Homo sapiens: one gene and its partners. The protein of the gene in region 2 purifies or fractionates together with the protein of the main gene of each other region. This does not show direct contact. Each region holds a gene or a part of one and is shown on either strand. Other genes may lie near its edges.

The links. The genes of interacting proteins can lie anywhere in the genome.
Region 1: the proteins of MARVELD2 (region 2) and STK38 purify together in Homo sapiens (affinity purification with mass spectrometry; 2 studies listed by BioGRID and IntAct, with this or other methods). This does not show direct contact.
Region 3: the proteins of MARVELD2 (region 2) and GAP43 purify together in Homo sapiens (affinity purification with mass spectrometry; 2 studies listed by BioGRID and IntAct, with this or other methods). This does not show direct contact.
Region 4: the proteins of MARVELD2 (region 2) and SLC36A4 fractionate together in Homo sapiens (co-fractionation; one large-scale study listed by BioGRID). This does not show direct contact.

Annotation. Positions count from the first base shown.
Region 1 is NC_000006.12:36,498,980-36,502,479, forward strand, and holds part of STK38 (serine/threonine-protein kinase 38), read right to left. Parts: intron 1,012-3,500; coding exon 894-1,011; intron 1-893. UniProt on the Homo sapiens protein: Serine/threonine-protein kinase that acts as a negative regulator of MAP3K1/2 signaling. Converts MAP3K2 from its phosphorylated form to its non-phosphorylated form and inhibits autophosphorylation of MAP3K2.
Region 2 is NC_000005.10:69,420,573-69,426,228, reverse strand, and holds part of MARVELD2 (MARVEL domain-containing protein 2), read right to left. Parts: intron 1,629-5,656; coding exon 1,593-1,628; intron 1-1,592. UniProt on the Homo sapiens protein: Plays a role in the formation of tricellular tight junctions and of epithelial barriers.
Region 3 is NC_000003.12:115,630,010-115,633,509, reverse strand, and holds part of GAP43 (neuromodulin), read right to left. Parts: intron 1-3,500. UniProt on the Homo sapiens protein: This protein is associated with nerve growth. It is a major component of the motile 'growth cones' that form the tips of elongating axons. Plays a role in axonal and dendritic filopodia induction.
Region 4 is NC_000011.10:93,191,492-93,194,991, forward strand, and holds part of SLC36A4 (neutral amino acid uniporter 4), read right to left. Parts: intron 1-3,500.

The sequences.
Region 1 (3,500 bases), on a different chromosome or scaffold from region 2:
ACCTAAACCTATTTTTCATTTTCCCCCAAACTCCCAGACCCAAAGTGAAATCATGCCTCTGGTACCACTAGGAAGTCAGCTAATAGGTAGAGCTGGGAAAAGAAAGGAGGACATAAATAGAGTTGCAGGTGTGGGAATCACCATGCCCAAAGAAGAAATGAAAGGATGAAACAATATCATTCCAGAAATACCCTTATATGGGTAAAGTACCAAATAACTTGAATAAGAAAAAAGCATAGATTTTAAAAATGACCACCATGCCTCTTTTTGAGAACTACAGGCAAGAAGACAAACACGCACACACCCTATCACCCCATCTTCCCTCCAGACGGTGTACGCCCACCTCCACAGGCATCGTTCCCATGTTCCTGAAGCCAAAGCAGCCAGATAGACTCACCCGGAACCACCAAGGATATACTTAATCTAGTGCTCACTGGCATATGACCACCCCCACAGATGCGTCCCATAAATACAGAGACACACCAATACAATAAGAGGGAGAGAGGCCAGAGGGTCCCATGATTTGAAGGCTTTGACAGAGGAAGGGGGCGGCAAATTAGGAAAGTGAGGCAATGCCCAGTTGAAGTGCTCTGCATACAACGGATATTTAATAAATGCTAGTGACTAAAAGAGCTTCTAGATGGAGAAGATGAAGGTATAAGAGAAAGAAAAACATAAAAAATGATCAGCAAAGCAATTGCAGGATGCCAGTAAGCCCAAGAATGGAGTGGGATACATCTTACTGAAAGAGGTGTCATCTGTCTAAAACAATTCACTTTGAAAGACAAGTAGGGAAATCACTTAGATCACTGCCAATTGAAACAGAGGCTGGTATCAATGTAAAAGTCTGTCATGGATGCACAGAAAAAGTCCTCTGAAACCATGCAACTTACCGATGAGCATCTCATACATGATCACCCCAAGCGACCACCAATCACAGAGCTTGTTGTACCCGGTCTGCATGAACACCTCAGGAGCAATGTAGTCAGGAGTGCCTACTGTGGAGAAGGCCTGAAACATGGACCACACATCAGCGAGGCCCAGCCAGGCAGGAGGTGCCCAGAGTTCTGTTCTAGAAACCAAAGGCTATGAGTAACATCAGAAGCTACCCCCAAGCTAAATAAGCAGGACTGCCCAGTAGCTTAATGGCAAGCTCGATTTCCCAAAGCACTTTCCAAAATGAACAATAAAGCTTTGTTCATGAGGCAGGAGACCCTTAACTATGAGTCACTAGGGCGAAGGCATCTGTGTCATAATAACTGGTATTACAATTTACTGAGCACCCATTAAGTACTAGGCTCTGTACTTAATATATATATTACATGAGTTTTATATATATATATAACTTCATATACATGAGTCCATTTAATCCTGACAAAACTTTTCCAAGGAGGACCTTATTAGCTTAACTTTGCAGATACAATTTGATGCTCAAAATGGCTTTGCCTGAGACCGCAGAACTAGTTAGGTGGTAGAGCCCAGTTTAAAAATTAAATATCTGGCCGGGAGTGGTGGTTCACGCCTGTAATCCCAGCACTTTGAGAGGCTGAGGTGGGCGGATCACGAGGTCAAGAGATGGAGACCATCCTGGCCAACATGGTGAAAACCCGTCTCTACTAAAAATACAAAAATTAGCTGGGCGTGGTGGTGTGCACCTGTAGTCCTAGCTTCTCGGGAGGCTGAGGCAGGAGAATCGCTTGAACCCGGGAGGCGGAGGTTGCAGTGAGCCGAGATCGTGCCACTGCACTCCAGCCTGGCGACAGAGTGAGACTCTGTCTCAAAAAAAAAAAAAAAAAAAAATAGGAATTATAGTATCTTACTCCAAACCATCCCTCTTTCTATGATACACATTCTTTGATTTGACACAATCATAAAGGGAAGCTATATGATCAAAAGCTAAAGTTATATCCTATAACTTAAACATTTATAAATACCTATTTACCAAACTTAATTGTTTTTGTATATAGTTCTTGGAGGAATGTTTTCTTTTTCTAAGAAATGGGGGTCTCCCTTTGTGGGCCCAGGCTGGAGTGCAGTGGCACGATGATGGCTCACCTCAAACTCCTAGGCTCAAGAGATCCTCCCACCTCAGCCACCATAGTAGCTAGGACCACAGGTGCATGCCACCACACCTGGCTAATTTTTTAATTTTTTTGTAGAGATGGGGTTTTGCCATCTTGCCCAGACTGGTCTTTAACTCCTGGCTCAAGTGATCCTCCCACCTCAGCCTCCCAAAGTGCTGGGATTACAGGTGTGAGCCACCGCACCTGACCAAGAGAAACATTTTCTGCATTCCAGTATTCTACTCTAACATACCAGGACTGCAAAATAAGAGGAGAAAGTACAATCAAAGCCTCCTAATGTACTTAACATTTGAGGGCTTCCATGTGTAAGGCTCTGATCTAGGTGCTTTAAATATTATATAATTTTTTAAATTACAGTTGTATTGTTTTTAAAACATGTATTATGAAATATTACAAACATACAGAAAAAAGGAACAGACAATACAATACAGACCCATTACCCACATTAAAAAGATTAATAATTTGCCATATTTGTCTCAGATCATTTGTCTTTTTTTTTTTTTTTGAGATGAACCACACCTGGCTAATTTTTTGTATTTTTAGTAGAGACAGGGTTTCACCACATTGGCCAGGCTGGTCACAAACTCCTGACCTCAAGTGATCCACCCACCTCAGCCTCCCAAAGTACTGGGATTACAGGAGTGAGCCACCGCAACCGGCCTTGTTTGTCTTAACATTCGTTTTGAGATTTATTCATGTAGCTCTAGTTCACTCATTTCTCTGCCGTATGCTATACTGTTATATAAATTAGTCACAATAGTTTTTATCCGTTCTTCTGTAATGGACAGTTACAGTGCTTCCAGTATTTCACTATGACAAATAACACCTGAATAAACATTCTTTTAATACCTTCTTGGGCACTGTGCAAGCATTCCTCTAGAGTATTAACTAGAATATTGCTGAGCCTTGGGTTATAAGCATTTAAACTTGAGGTATCTTCCATGTCCTCCAAAGTAGTTAGTCCCTATTTAAACCAACCCCGGTGGGGATTAGCTTCTGGTACTCCATATCTCATCAAGACTTGGCTTTGTCAGATTTTTTTTTATTTTTACCAATCTGATGAATATGAAATGGGATCTCTTTTTTTTTCTTTTTAAGAGATGGGGTCTTGCTCTGTCACCCGGGCTGGAGTGCAGTGGTATGATCATAGCTCACTGCAGCCTTGAAATCCTGGCCTCAAGGGATTCTCCTGCCTCAGCCTCCTGAGTAGCTGGGACTGTAGGGATGTGCCAGCATGGCTGGGATCTTGTTTTAATTTGCATTTACTTTATTTCAAGTAGGGTTGAGCACATATTCATATTTTAATTAGCCATCCAGGTTTTTATTATGAATTCCTATTCAGATCCTTTGTCCATTAGTATTTTTTAAGTTGTGTTGTCCTTTTTCTTATTGATTCATAGGAATTCTTTATGAATT
Region 2 (5,656 bases):
ACAGCATCTCACTGAGTCCTCTCAGCAAACTTGCGAGGTATGAATTATTATTATTGCAATCTCACAGATGAAGAAATGCAGGCATAGAAAGGTTAAATAATTTGTCTGCTGCCACACAGTTGGTAAATTGTGGAATAGAAATTCCCTGACACTACAAAATTTGGCATCTTTAAAAAAAAGTATTATTGGCCGGGCATGCTGGCTCACACCCATAATCCCAGCACTTTGGGAGGCCGAGGCGGGCGGATCACGAGGTCAGGAGATCGAGAACATCCTGACCTCGTGAAACTAGCTAACATGGTGAAACCCCGTCTCCACTAAAAATACAAAAAATTAGCCGGCCGCGGTGGTGGGCACCTGTAGTCCCAGCTACTCGGGAGGCTGAGGCAGGAGAATGGTGTGAACCTGGGAGGCGGAGCTTGCAGTGAGCCGAGATAGCGCCACTGCACTCCAGCCTGGGCGACAGAGACTCCATCTCAAAAAAAAAAAAAAAGTATTATTATTATTAATTTCTTTTTTAACTGTCCTGTGAGTGTAGTAAAAAATTTGGCATCTGAAAGCAAGGTGAGAAGGATACAAAGAACAGCACAGAACTTTAAATACAAGTGAAGAAAGTTTCAGAGAATCACTTTCATTTAAAAAATAATTAAATTTCAAACATATGTTGGTTTGTTTACTTGCATAAATTTTCATCTAACAAAATTAAAAGCAGCTATAGATATGATTGTTTAATTTGGTCCTTTTAGTATCTGGAAAAAAGCTCAAAGTCCTAATATGAACTCGATGTAACAGCTACAATTTCTTTTTTTTTTTTTAATATATATATATTTTTTTATTATACTTTAAGTTTTAGGGAACATGTGCACATTGTGCAGGTTAGTCACATATGTATACATGTGCCATGCTGGTGCGCTGCACCCACTAACTCGTCATCTAGCATTAGGTATATCTCCCAATGCTATCCCTCCCCGCTCCCCCGACCCCACCACAGTCCCCAGAGTGTGATAATCCCCTTCCTGTGTCCATGTGATCTCATTGTTCAATTCCCACCTATGAGTGAGAATATGTGGTGTTTGGTTTTTTGTTCTTGCGATAGTTTACTGAGAATGATGATTTCCAATTTCATCCATGTCCCTACAAAGGACATGAATTCATCATTTTTTATGGCTGCATGTAATAGCTACACTTTCTTTTCTTTTCTTTTTTTAAACAGTCTCACTCTGTCACCCAGGCTGGAGTGCAGTGACGTGATCTTGGCTCACTGAAACCTTCACCTCCCAGATTCAAGTGGTTCTCGTGCCTCAGCCTCCAGAGTAGCTGGGATTACAGGCGTGTGCCACCACGTGCAGGTAATTTTTGTATTTTTGGTAGAGACAGGGTTTCACCATTTTGGCCAGGCTGGTCTTGAAATTCTGGTCTCAAGTGCTCCGCCCTCCTCAGCCTCCCAAAGTGCTGGGATTACAGGTGTGAGCCACCACACCTGGCCAATAGCTACATTTCACAGATGTACGATACTACTATGTAGATAAACAGACCTAAGAGAAAAGTATTAACAAATCTAAAGCATAATATGAAGTAAACTTTATTCTTACCATTTTCCTTTTCGATGACAATGATGGCTCATTTATCTGGAACAAAAAGAGTTCAAATAGTTTTTCAAAGGCATGTGAAGCTACTTTGCAAATATTTTCATCCATTTGCATTTATAGCCCAACCTCAATTTTAAGAGGTTGATCCTCTACTTGACGGGTGTTTCTCATCCTTTTTTTGCCTAGGTTTTGAAGGGCCAGTGGAGAACTGAGAAGAGGGATAACTGTAATTCCCTGTCAATCAGGGCATAGAGAGGAGTAGGGAATACGGAGATGGTGGAAACTGTTAGATAAACCACTCTGAATTACCCTCAAATTTTATTTATTCTTGCCTCCCATTACTTTGCATGATTAAAGAGTTAGGACAATTACTCTATAAAATTAATAGAAAAAAGCCCTAGGCCATTACATCTTCTAACCTTTAGGAAGTTATAGCAACGTACAGACAGGCACAACTTTCAACATCAGGTGACTGAAGTCTAATTAGGCATTATGAAAAGTCTCATAGACATAAGTTTTTGTTGAGAAAGGAAAAAGAAATAAAAGTATTATGTTGATCATTCTATTCATATAGAATTTTTAAATATTAAGATTTAATAACTTATGCAACTAGCATAAATTTATGAGGAAGTATGTGTTTCACTATCTGGATTTCATACTGATTAGAATTAACATTTTTTACTTTGTACACAGAGATGTACATTTAAGAAATAAATTGTAACTTTAAGAAACAAAAATTTAATACATGTGAAGGTTACATAAAAAAACAAAAATGTAAGAAATATGCTTAAAATGCTAAGACACATTTTTAGAAATAACTTGAATCTATGTAGAGTTCTAGCAAGATAAATTATTTTGTGACAATCAAGCTAGGCATGGTGGCTTATGCCTGTAATCCCAGCACTTTGGGAGGCTGAGGGGAGAGGATTGCTTGAGGCCAGGAGTTTGAGACCAGCCTGAGCAACATAGCAAGACCCCGTCTCTACAAAAAATTTAAAATATATAGAGAGAGAGATCACATGGACACATGTCAAAGTCCTTTGTATAACATGTAGGTACTTGTTATAAAACTATTTTTTTCCATCAAGCACAGTGGCTTATACTTATAATCCCAACACTTTGGGAGGCTGAGGCAGGAGGATTGCTTGAGCCCAGAAGTTCGAGACCAGCCTGGGTAACATAGTGATACCCTGTCTCTACAAAAAATATTGAAAAATAGCCAGGTGTGGTGGTGTATGCCTGCAGTCCCAGCTACCTGGGAGGCTGAGGTGGGAAGATTGCTTGAGCCTGGGAGGTCAAAGCTGGAGTGAGCCATGATTGTGCCACCGTATTGCAGGCTGGGTGACAGAGTTAGACCCTTCCTCAAAACAAACCATCAACAACAACAACAACGACAACAAAACGATTTGTTTCCCATTCCACTAGGTGTAAAAAGAAAATCTAAGGCTGGGTGTGGTGGCTCACGCCTGTAATCCTATCACTCTGGGAGGCCAAGGCAGATGGATCACCAGAGGTCAGGAGCTCAAGATCAGCCTGGCCAACATGGCAAAACCCTGTCTCTACTAAATACAAAAATTAGCTGGGCATGGTGGCATGTGCCTGTAATCCCAGCTACTAGGGGGGCTGAGGCAGAAGGATCACTTGAACCTGGGAAGCGGAGGTTATAGTGAGCAGAGATTGTGCCACTGCACTCCAGCCTGGTGCCAGATATTGGGGGAAATTCATCCCCGATATTTCACATAGGTTCTTTTCTATATTCCCTAAGTGTCGGCCAGTCTGAGAAATAAAGGGAAAGAGTACAAAAGAGAGAAATTTTAAAGCTGGGTGTGCAGGGGAGACATCACATGTCGGCAGGTTCCGTGATGCCCCCGAGCCGTAAAACCAGCAAGTTTTTATTAGTGATTTTCAAAAGGGGAGGGAGTGTATGAATAGGGTGTGGGTCACAGAGATCACATGCTTTACAAGGTAATAAAATATCACAAGGCAAATGGAGGCAGGGCGAGATCACAGGCCACAGGACGGGGCAAAATTAAAATTGCTAATGAAGTTTCAGGCATGCATTGTCACTGATAACATCTTATCAGGAGACAGGGTTTGAGAGCAGACAACTGGTCTGACCAAAATTTATTAGGCGGGAATTTCCTCGTCCTAATAAGCCTGGGAGCACTACAGGAGACCAGGGCTTATTTCATCCCTTATCTATGATTGTAAAAGACAGCCATCCCCAAAGCGGCCATTTCAGAGGCCTACCCTCAGGGATGCATTCTCTTTCTCAGGGATGCTCCTTGCTGAGAAAAAGAATTCAGCGATATTTCTCCTATTTGCTTTTGAAAGAAGAGAAATATGGCTCTGTTCCGCCCAGCTCACAGGCAGCCAGAGTTTAAGGTTATCTCCCTTGTTCCCTGAACATTGCTGTTATCCTGTTCTTTTTTCAAGGTGCCCAGATTTCATATTGTTCAAACACACATGCTCTACAAACAATTTGTGCAGTTAACTCAATCATCACACGGTCCTGAGGCAACATACATCCTCCTCAGTTTATGAAGATGACGGGATTAAGAGATTAAAGACAGGCATAGGAAATCACAAGGGTATTGATTGGGGAAGTGATAAGTGTCCATGAAATCTTCACAATTTATGTTCAGAGACTGCAGTAAAGACAGGCATAAGAAATTATAAAAGTATTAATTTGGGGAATTAATAAATGTCCATGAAATCTTCACAATTTATGTTCTTCTGCCATGGCTTCAGCTGGTCCCTCTGTTTGGGGTCCCTGACTTCCCGCAACAGTGCCACTGCACTCTGGCAACAGAGTGAGACTCTGTCTCAAAAAAAAAAAAAAAAAGAAAGAAAAGAAAATTAAAAAAACCAAAAAACGGGCCAGGCATGGTGGCTCACACCTGTAATCCCAGCACTTTGGGATGCCAAGGCAGGTGGATTGCTTGAGTCCAGGAGTTTGAGACCAGCCTGGACAACATGGCAAATACTCATCTCTAAAGAAAAAAAAAATTAAAAAAATTTTAAAACCAAAGCGCTATTTGTTGCTATGCATCAGATTCAAGCAAAAGATTAAAAACAAAATACATATGTCAGTGTGTGCTGTTATAAGGACAGGATTTAATTTTTATTTATAGTTTTGCCCAATATATACCATGTGCAATTGTATAGTATCTAAGAAGTCTTAGGAAAAGTGGAAAAGCAAAAATTCATAATATAGTTAACTTAAAATTACAAAAAATTTTAAGGTAAATACTGAAAATTTCAGTGGCATAGGAGAGTCTACTATACACATATCCTTGGAAGAAGGCAAAATATCAACTTACTTCAGAGAATAATGTAGCCAGTGGAACATACTCTAACATTTGCTACTGTTCAACCAAAATAATTTTAGGTAGGGCTTTTATCTCATCCTTCAGTTATTATTATTTTATTCTTCTTATTGTTCTCATTATTATTTATTCTCATTATTATCCTATTAAGTTCTAGAAATATAAAAACAATGTAGGACTTCCATTCTCATTTTGGACCATACGTCTTCCTCAAATAAAGACAAATTATCAAAACCACTGGGCAAGTTTTCAGAGTATGTTCATTACAATTCAATCTCTCAATACTTAAAAAAAATCAAACATGGTTTACCACATTCTTATTTGGCTTTATTCAACTCACTGGGAGAAAGTAAATTGTAACATTTAAATGAAAAATTAGGAGCTTTTATTAAAGAATTAAGATTGTTCTCAAACTTAATGATGAGACACTTATTTTACTGAGTACACTCTTCTTCTTTGCAAAAATTCGGTAGCTGTATCTTTCCCTTAAGCTTCAGACAGACATAATAATGCAGCCAACAAACTATATATTACACATCTGGTGTCTACTTGCAATGTTATGTAACAGCCAAACACCAGAGTGGGTTATCCCAGTCAAAGCATGTCAGATATTGCACTAGGACTTTTGAATCTCAGACCATTGAAAAAAAAAAAAAGGAAGAAAGAAAAGATTTCTATGAAAGCTTTCTGTTTTGAGCGCTATACATTTTTTAACAAGGGAGCAAATAACAGAAAAAA
Region 3 (3,500 bases), on a different chromosome or scaffold from region 2:
ACCACACTTGAGATAAGTTCCTTCTGACTCGGGTAGCTAACCCACATGTGGACTATGTGGACATATAGGTATATATGCAGGAGACTAATTCTCAACCAACTTACCCTCTCACTAGATTTACAAGTGTGGGCTTACCAAAATTGTCTCTAACCTATGTCACCCAGCCCTTTTTCCAGTCAGAGATATCGGCCCTGTGGCAGTTGCTAGGTGACCCAAGCAGGACCAATAAAATTCATTCATCCTCATTCTCTCTCTCTCTGTCTCTCTCCCTCTGTCCCTCTCTCCCTTTGTCTGTCTCTCTCTTATCTCTCTCTTTCTCTCTCATCATTTAAAATTTGAATTGTAGCTGGGATTATTAATAACTGAGTCTTTTTTGATGCAGGGCCCCAGAAAGAGTTTATGAATTCCTGTTATTGAAATTCTACCCTGGTTCCCATAGGCTTCGTTGTTCAACTTACTAATTTCATATGATCGCTGCTTTTTTTCTTTTTCCAATAAATTCCTTTTATAGACTCTTAAAGTTGGTTTTGGATACTTGTTCCCAATCAAAAAACGCATATATAATAGAAGTAGTGTGTTCTGAGGCAGAAGAAGAAAGAAACAGGGAGAAAGGGATGTAGCTAGAGTGAAAGTTTAAAGGTGATACCATTAACCAAATATAAATATAATTAAAGAAATCATTATTTCCTTCTGGACACCAGTTTATTTTCAAATTTCTAGTTAACACACCTTTCTATTGCAGTCTACATGAGCCCTTTGTATAAAAGTATTTTGGGAAAATATGTACAATACTAATTTTTTTATGCTAAACTTTTGGCTTCTAGGAAAAATAGGATTTCTTAGACTAACTTGATCCAGTTATTATACTTTAAAGTATTTCTAAATGTTATCCATATGTTTAAAAACTCAGTTTCTTTGGTTTGTAGAATTCTGTGCTTATAGGAGAATCTGTTAAATTTTGTTGTTTTAAAGTGGTAATTTATCCCAGTCATGCCCAGGGACACAGAAGAACTATAATGTCCTTTGTGGAGATCTTGAGGGCTCAAAAGATTATGGCATTTAGAGTTGAGTTTGGAAAGGTTTAGGATTACATATCACCTCTCTAATCAAGGTTTATTCCTGTTGTATTGAGGAGCCCTGAAGTCAGGTTGTGGAAATGGTGATCAAGGGATCATCTTTGAAATGTGCTTCCCCCAACCAAACTGTATCTACATTTTCAGTCTCCCAACCAGCCCTGCATTTTCTCTCCACTCTTCTGCCTGACTGGGCCCTCATGTGATGGATGTGAGCACAGCATGCCTGGCCATCTTAGTGCTGAGAACCCAGTTTGGAGGTGAAGTGGGGGTGGGTATAGAGGGGGAGGCAGCAAACTTAGCAAATGGAGAAGAAAAGAGATCTAAATGTGAGGAAAAGACTAAAACAGAAAAAGATAAAAAGAAAAACAGTGGGTATTTCTAATGCATTTGAAGTGATCCTTGGGTCTTGTAACACTTTGAATATTGGCTTATCTAAATTCTGTCACTGAAGTTTTCAAAGGAAATAATAAACAGATACTATGTTCCCATCCATTAGCATGGTTAATATTTACTCTGAGCCGTGCCCGGCTCATGCCTGTAATCCCAACACTTTGAGAGGCCGAGGTGGGTGGATCACTTGAGCTCAGCAGTTCAAGACCAGCCTGGGCAACATGGTGAAACCTTGTCTCTACTAAAAATTCAAAAGTGAGCCAGGCGTGGTGGCATGCAACTGTAGTCCCAGCTACTTGAGAGGCTGAGACAGGAGAATTGCTTGAACCTGGGAGGCGGAGGTTGCAGTGAGTCGAGATCACACCACTGCACTCCAGTCTGGATGGCAGCAAGACTCCATCTCAAAAAACAAACAAACAAAAAATTTACTCTGTAGAGTATGGGAATCAGGTGGAAATGGGGAATGTGTGTATTCTATACAGAGAGCAAGAGTACTTCTTGTTTGCTTAGAGCCATGAATACTTTAGTGCTCGATCTATGAAATTCCTTAATTAATAATACTTACATTTCAAAAACACATTGTTTGCAAAACACTTTTATTGTTATCTCTTTATTTGAGACTCACACCAACCTAATTTTAAGAAGAAAAGGTAAGACAGGATTTGGAGGTTCTTTTTATGTACCCACTACACAGATGAATATACTAGGCTCAGAAAGGTTAAATTACTTACCCAACATCACATGACAAGCAATTGGCAGAACCAGGTCTAGAACCCAGGGAAAGGATTTATTCCACTACAAAGACATGAAACAGGACATTAAACAAACAACATCTAAGAAAATAAGATCTGTAAATAATTAAGGATAGGAAATCTGGAAGATCACATTCCCGTGCTAAACCTGAATGAAATGACTGCAAGTGTGTCTCTCTGATCTAAGCAGACAGGAGAGGGAATTGAACTTTGACTACATCCACCTTGTGAGGGGGACCAATAGAGCTGAGCTTGCATTTACACAAAGCCCACGCTGAATAAGTAATCAGAAATGGTCGTCTGTCCCAGAACATCTCCCCTAATGACCCATCATGATGCTCCTTCCCTTCCTACATTTATTACTTCAACAAATATTTATTGAGAATCTAAGATGTGCCAGACATAGCTTAAAATACCTGTTTTGTCTATAAGTACTTTTTAGAAAGTTTGAAGAAACACACTTTTTCTTAAAGTTCTCCTTCCATAGCCTCACCCACTAAACACTAACATGAACTGGTATTACTTAATCAGAAAAACTCTACCTGGGTCTGACAGGAGGAGAAAATAATAGAAAAACTCAATGCCAAAGAGATTGGGAGCAGTAAGCAAGATATCAAGTGAGGGTATGGCAATTGACAAATACTACTGAACCTTACCAGTTGAAGACAAACTTCACTTACAAATTATTTAGTCTTTCTGCTGTTCTCAAGGACATGCCAATTCAGTCAGAGAAAATACACTACTTAGCGTCTGGCAAGAGTGTTTTCATGGAAAACAGTGGTTGCAATTTGTTCCATGCTGGGCACAATAGGACTACTTCAGAACCCAAGTCCCTTCAGTCTATTTAAACCTAAGAAAAATCCAATTCATCTGGTACTAACATTCCTTTAACAGTCATTTGAGGGACTACTTACCATTCACCCTCCCTATACCTCCAATCATGATTTATCTTTGTGAAATATTATTATGTGGATACTTCAGACGGAAGAAAAGAAATCCAAATGAAGGTAAAATTAATTTTTGAGCACACACACCTAAGCACAGGCCAGCACTACATGCATTTAAAGAAAAAAATATTGCTACTCTTAGTTGATTTATTTCATGGATCACACAGATTGATTTACGGTCTATTTGTAAGAGTTGTGAAGCAAAGCAGTGAGTGCAAGTACTTGGAGCCTCAAAGTAAGGGCATGTGAAGATCCAGAGTTGTGGTAACCAGAGAGGGTGGGGCTGTAATGTTGGTTGTTGGACGAGGAGGACATGGAGGGGAGATAGTGCCAGC
Region 4 (3,500 bases), on a different chromosome or scaffold from region 2:
GGCTCAGATTCAAGAAAGATGGCACCCATCACTACCACCATATCCTCCCCTTGGTTATTTCACACTGTGATGTCAGATGAAAAGCAGTGAGGTATGAGGTAAAGAATTAGCATTCATACTCTCTCTGGGAACTGCCTGTGGAATTCCCTGAAAGACATATATATGAAAGTGGTTACCAGGAGTTGTTTTTCCTGGCACAATAGACTCTCATGGCTTACCTTTTAGTTTGCTAGTGAAAAGGATGTCAAAGACTATGATGGCTTTTATGCACAACAGCATTATAGGCGAACACATTAAGGAAGCTGATGCAAAGAGGAATAAGCCCTCTCACAAAATTTACTGGTTTCTGGCCCTTCTCAAAAACCCCTATTAATAGAATGTCATCCTCACTAATATCCACTAATAGTCCCTCAACACAAAAGCTCTCTGCCTCATAACTGAATGTATTCAATTAAATAGGTTACAATGGTTTCCTATTCAATTTCACAAATATTAATGAGGCCCTAATATATGTTAAACACCATTAGATGCTGAGAATAATTACTAAAACTCAAAAAAAAATCCTGCCTTCATGGAGCTCAAATTTTAGTGAAGGAAAGAGACAATAAGATAATAAGTAAAACAGAGATAAGTTGGATAGTGTTAAGTGCTAAGGAGAAACACAAGGATTGAGACAGCCTCTAATTTTGGAGAGACAGCCAAAGGAGGCCTCACTGAGAAAGTGGCATTTCAAAGAAGTCCTGACGAAGGAGCAGGAGTGAGCAGCGTGGATATCCTGTGGGAGGGAGAGTAATCTAGGCAGCAGGAACAAAGGCAAAGGCCCTCAGGATGGGAGTCTGGTGTGCTTAAGGAACAAGGAGGGCAGGGTAGCCAGAGAGGAATGAGTGCGGGGGAGGAGTAGGGGATGAGATCAGATCAGAGGTGACAGAAAGCAGACTGCACATAGCCTTGTAGACCATTCTACGTGACATGAAAAGCCACTAGAGCAGTGCCTTCCAGTAGGAATGCAATGTAATATAAATGTAAATTTACGTTACACAAATTTTTTGTAGTAACTTTTTTACAAAGAAAAAAGGAACAGGTGAAATTAATTTTAATATTTTATTTAACTTACCTAAAATATCATTTCAACATGTAATCAACAGTAAAAAATTAAGATATTTTGGATTCTATTTTTCATACTAAGTCTTTGAAATGCAGCATGTATTTTACACTTACAGCACATTTCAGTTTGAACACACCACGTTTCAAGCGCTCAATAACCATATAACTAAAGGCTATTGCACTGAACAGCACAGCACTAGAGAGTTTTGGGCCTTGGAGTGATATCATCTGATTTACATTTTAACCAGATTCCTCTGGGCCTATTTTCTCATATGTACAATGAAAATAATAACTTCTATTACATAGGAGTTTTGTGATGTCATCACAAATGATAATGTATATGAAGTTATTATATATATTACATATATGTTACATAGATAGAATATGAAGAATGAAATAATGTATATGAAGCACACAGCCTAGACCCTGGCACATAAATAAGTAATCAATAAACACTTTTTTTGTCTTCCTCCATATATTAGAAGCATATTAAGCTCTATGGGATTTTTAAATGCCAATCTTTGACAAAAATTAGAAATAATTTGATAATAATTAATACTTCTGAGCATTTATGACCTATAAACTGTGCTGTAAGATTGAGTATGCAAAGATGGGCAAAACATGTTATATCTGCCAGAAGGAAATAGAGATTAGTGAGGGAGATAAACACTTAACAACTCAACATAGTAAACAGAGTTAAGAATATATGAAATAAAAACTGACACCCCAAAGGAATTAAAGATTATAGAACCCAATTTACATTACACATAATGTCTATTATTTTCGCCCAATGTTTTGCTGTAATTTTTGGCTAAGTACTAAATTGGGCAGCTCTGGAAAATGCTGTGATTATTATTGTAAAAATTAATGATGCCTTATAAACTAAAACACTATTAAGGAATAGGTGTGCTATCTATTTATGAGTGGAGAAATTATATATAAATAAGAAACACTAGCTTGATTCAATATTATACAACATTTATTATACACCATATATCTGATGTTAGGTGTATTACATAGTACACCATAGGGATACATTAATGGTGCATACAAATGGAACATTCTTAAATTAGGCAGTGCTTGTATGCTCTCTTATTTGCCAAGAAAATTGTTTGAATCTCAATTTTCAAGCCTAAAACCAATATAAATTTCAAGTTGTAGACAGAATGTTCTAAAATCACATTAATTTAGCAATATCCTATGTATTAAAGTCTTAAAAATGTTTATTTCTTTCACCTAGTAATTCTACTTCTGGCAAGCTAGTGTATGCAGAAGAGGATTTTGCACAAGAATGTTCATTAAAACATTACTGACGTTGAAAATTGCGAAACAACCTAAATGTACAGCAATCAGGAAATTACTAAATTAACTAAGGCACAGTTACTTTATGAAATATTGCACTGACATTAAATTATGGTTGTGAGGTCTGAGTAAAACAGGGAAAAGTGTATCATATGCTAAGTGGGAAAAGTTGAATATCTGCAATATGATTACAATCATGTTTTTAAAAATTAAGTAGAAATAAGGGGAAGTAAATATATCAAAATGTGAGCAAGTTTACCAGAATATAGACGGACAATTGGATCATTAGTGTGCTTTTCCTTCTCTGGAAAATGTAAAAAAATATAAAAATAAAAAAAATTTAAAAAAGTAGTTGTAGCAAACTTGCATTACTTTTATAATAAAATTTAAAAATCACTTGTATTTTGGCAATAGAAAAACTAAAAGAAAGTAGAAATAGTTTCATTTTTTAAAATAACATAATATTGTCACCCGAATAAAGTACTCTCTAGATATAAAATAAGAACCATTACTATTTTGTTCATTTCTGAGGTGGAAGAAATATACACAGCAAGAAACTTTCCAGAGGTCCCTATGGGATATGAAATAAAGTGCAGACCTTAAGCTATTTACATACCTTACGAGAACCTGTATCTTAACATCTCTACCAGTGCTTTTTACATAAATACCCATTTTTGGAAATTCTTTTTTTAAATTAAATAACACTTGGTCATTGTAGAAAATCAGAAAATATATAAACATTTTTGAAATTAAAAATTACTTCATTACCCACAAATTACTACTGTTAACATTTTAGAGTACATGTTCACAGGCACACACACATACACACAAACAACTCTCATTATGTTCTCATTCTGTCTCCTAGCTTTAAATACTATCTATATGCTGATAACATCCAAATTTACATTTCCAGACCAGACCTTTCACTAATGCTAGACATAAAATCCAATTGCCTACTTGACATGTGCACTTTGATATCTAATGGACATCTCAAACTTAACATGCCCCAAACTGAACTGGTCTTCACCAGCAAGCCTGCTATTCCTGCAACTTTACCCATTTGTATTAGTTATCTATTGCTGTATAACAATTTA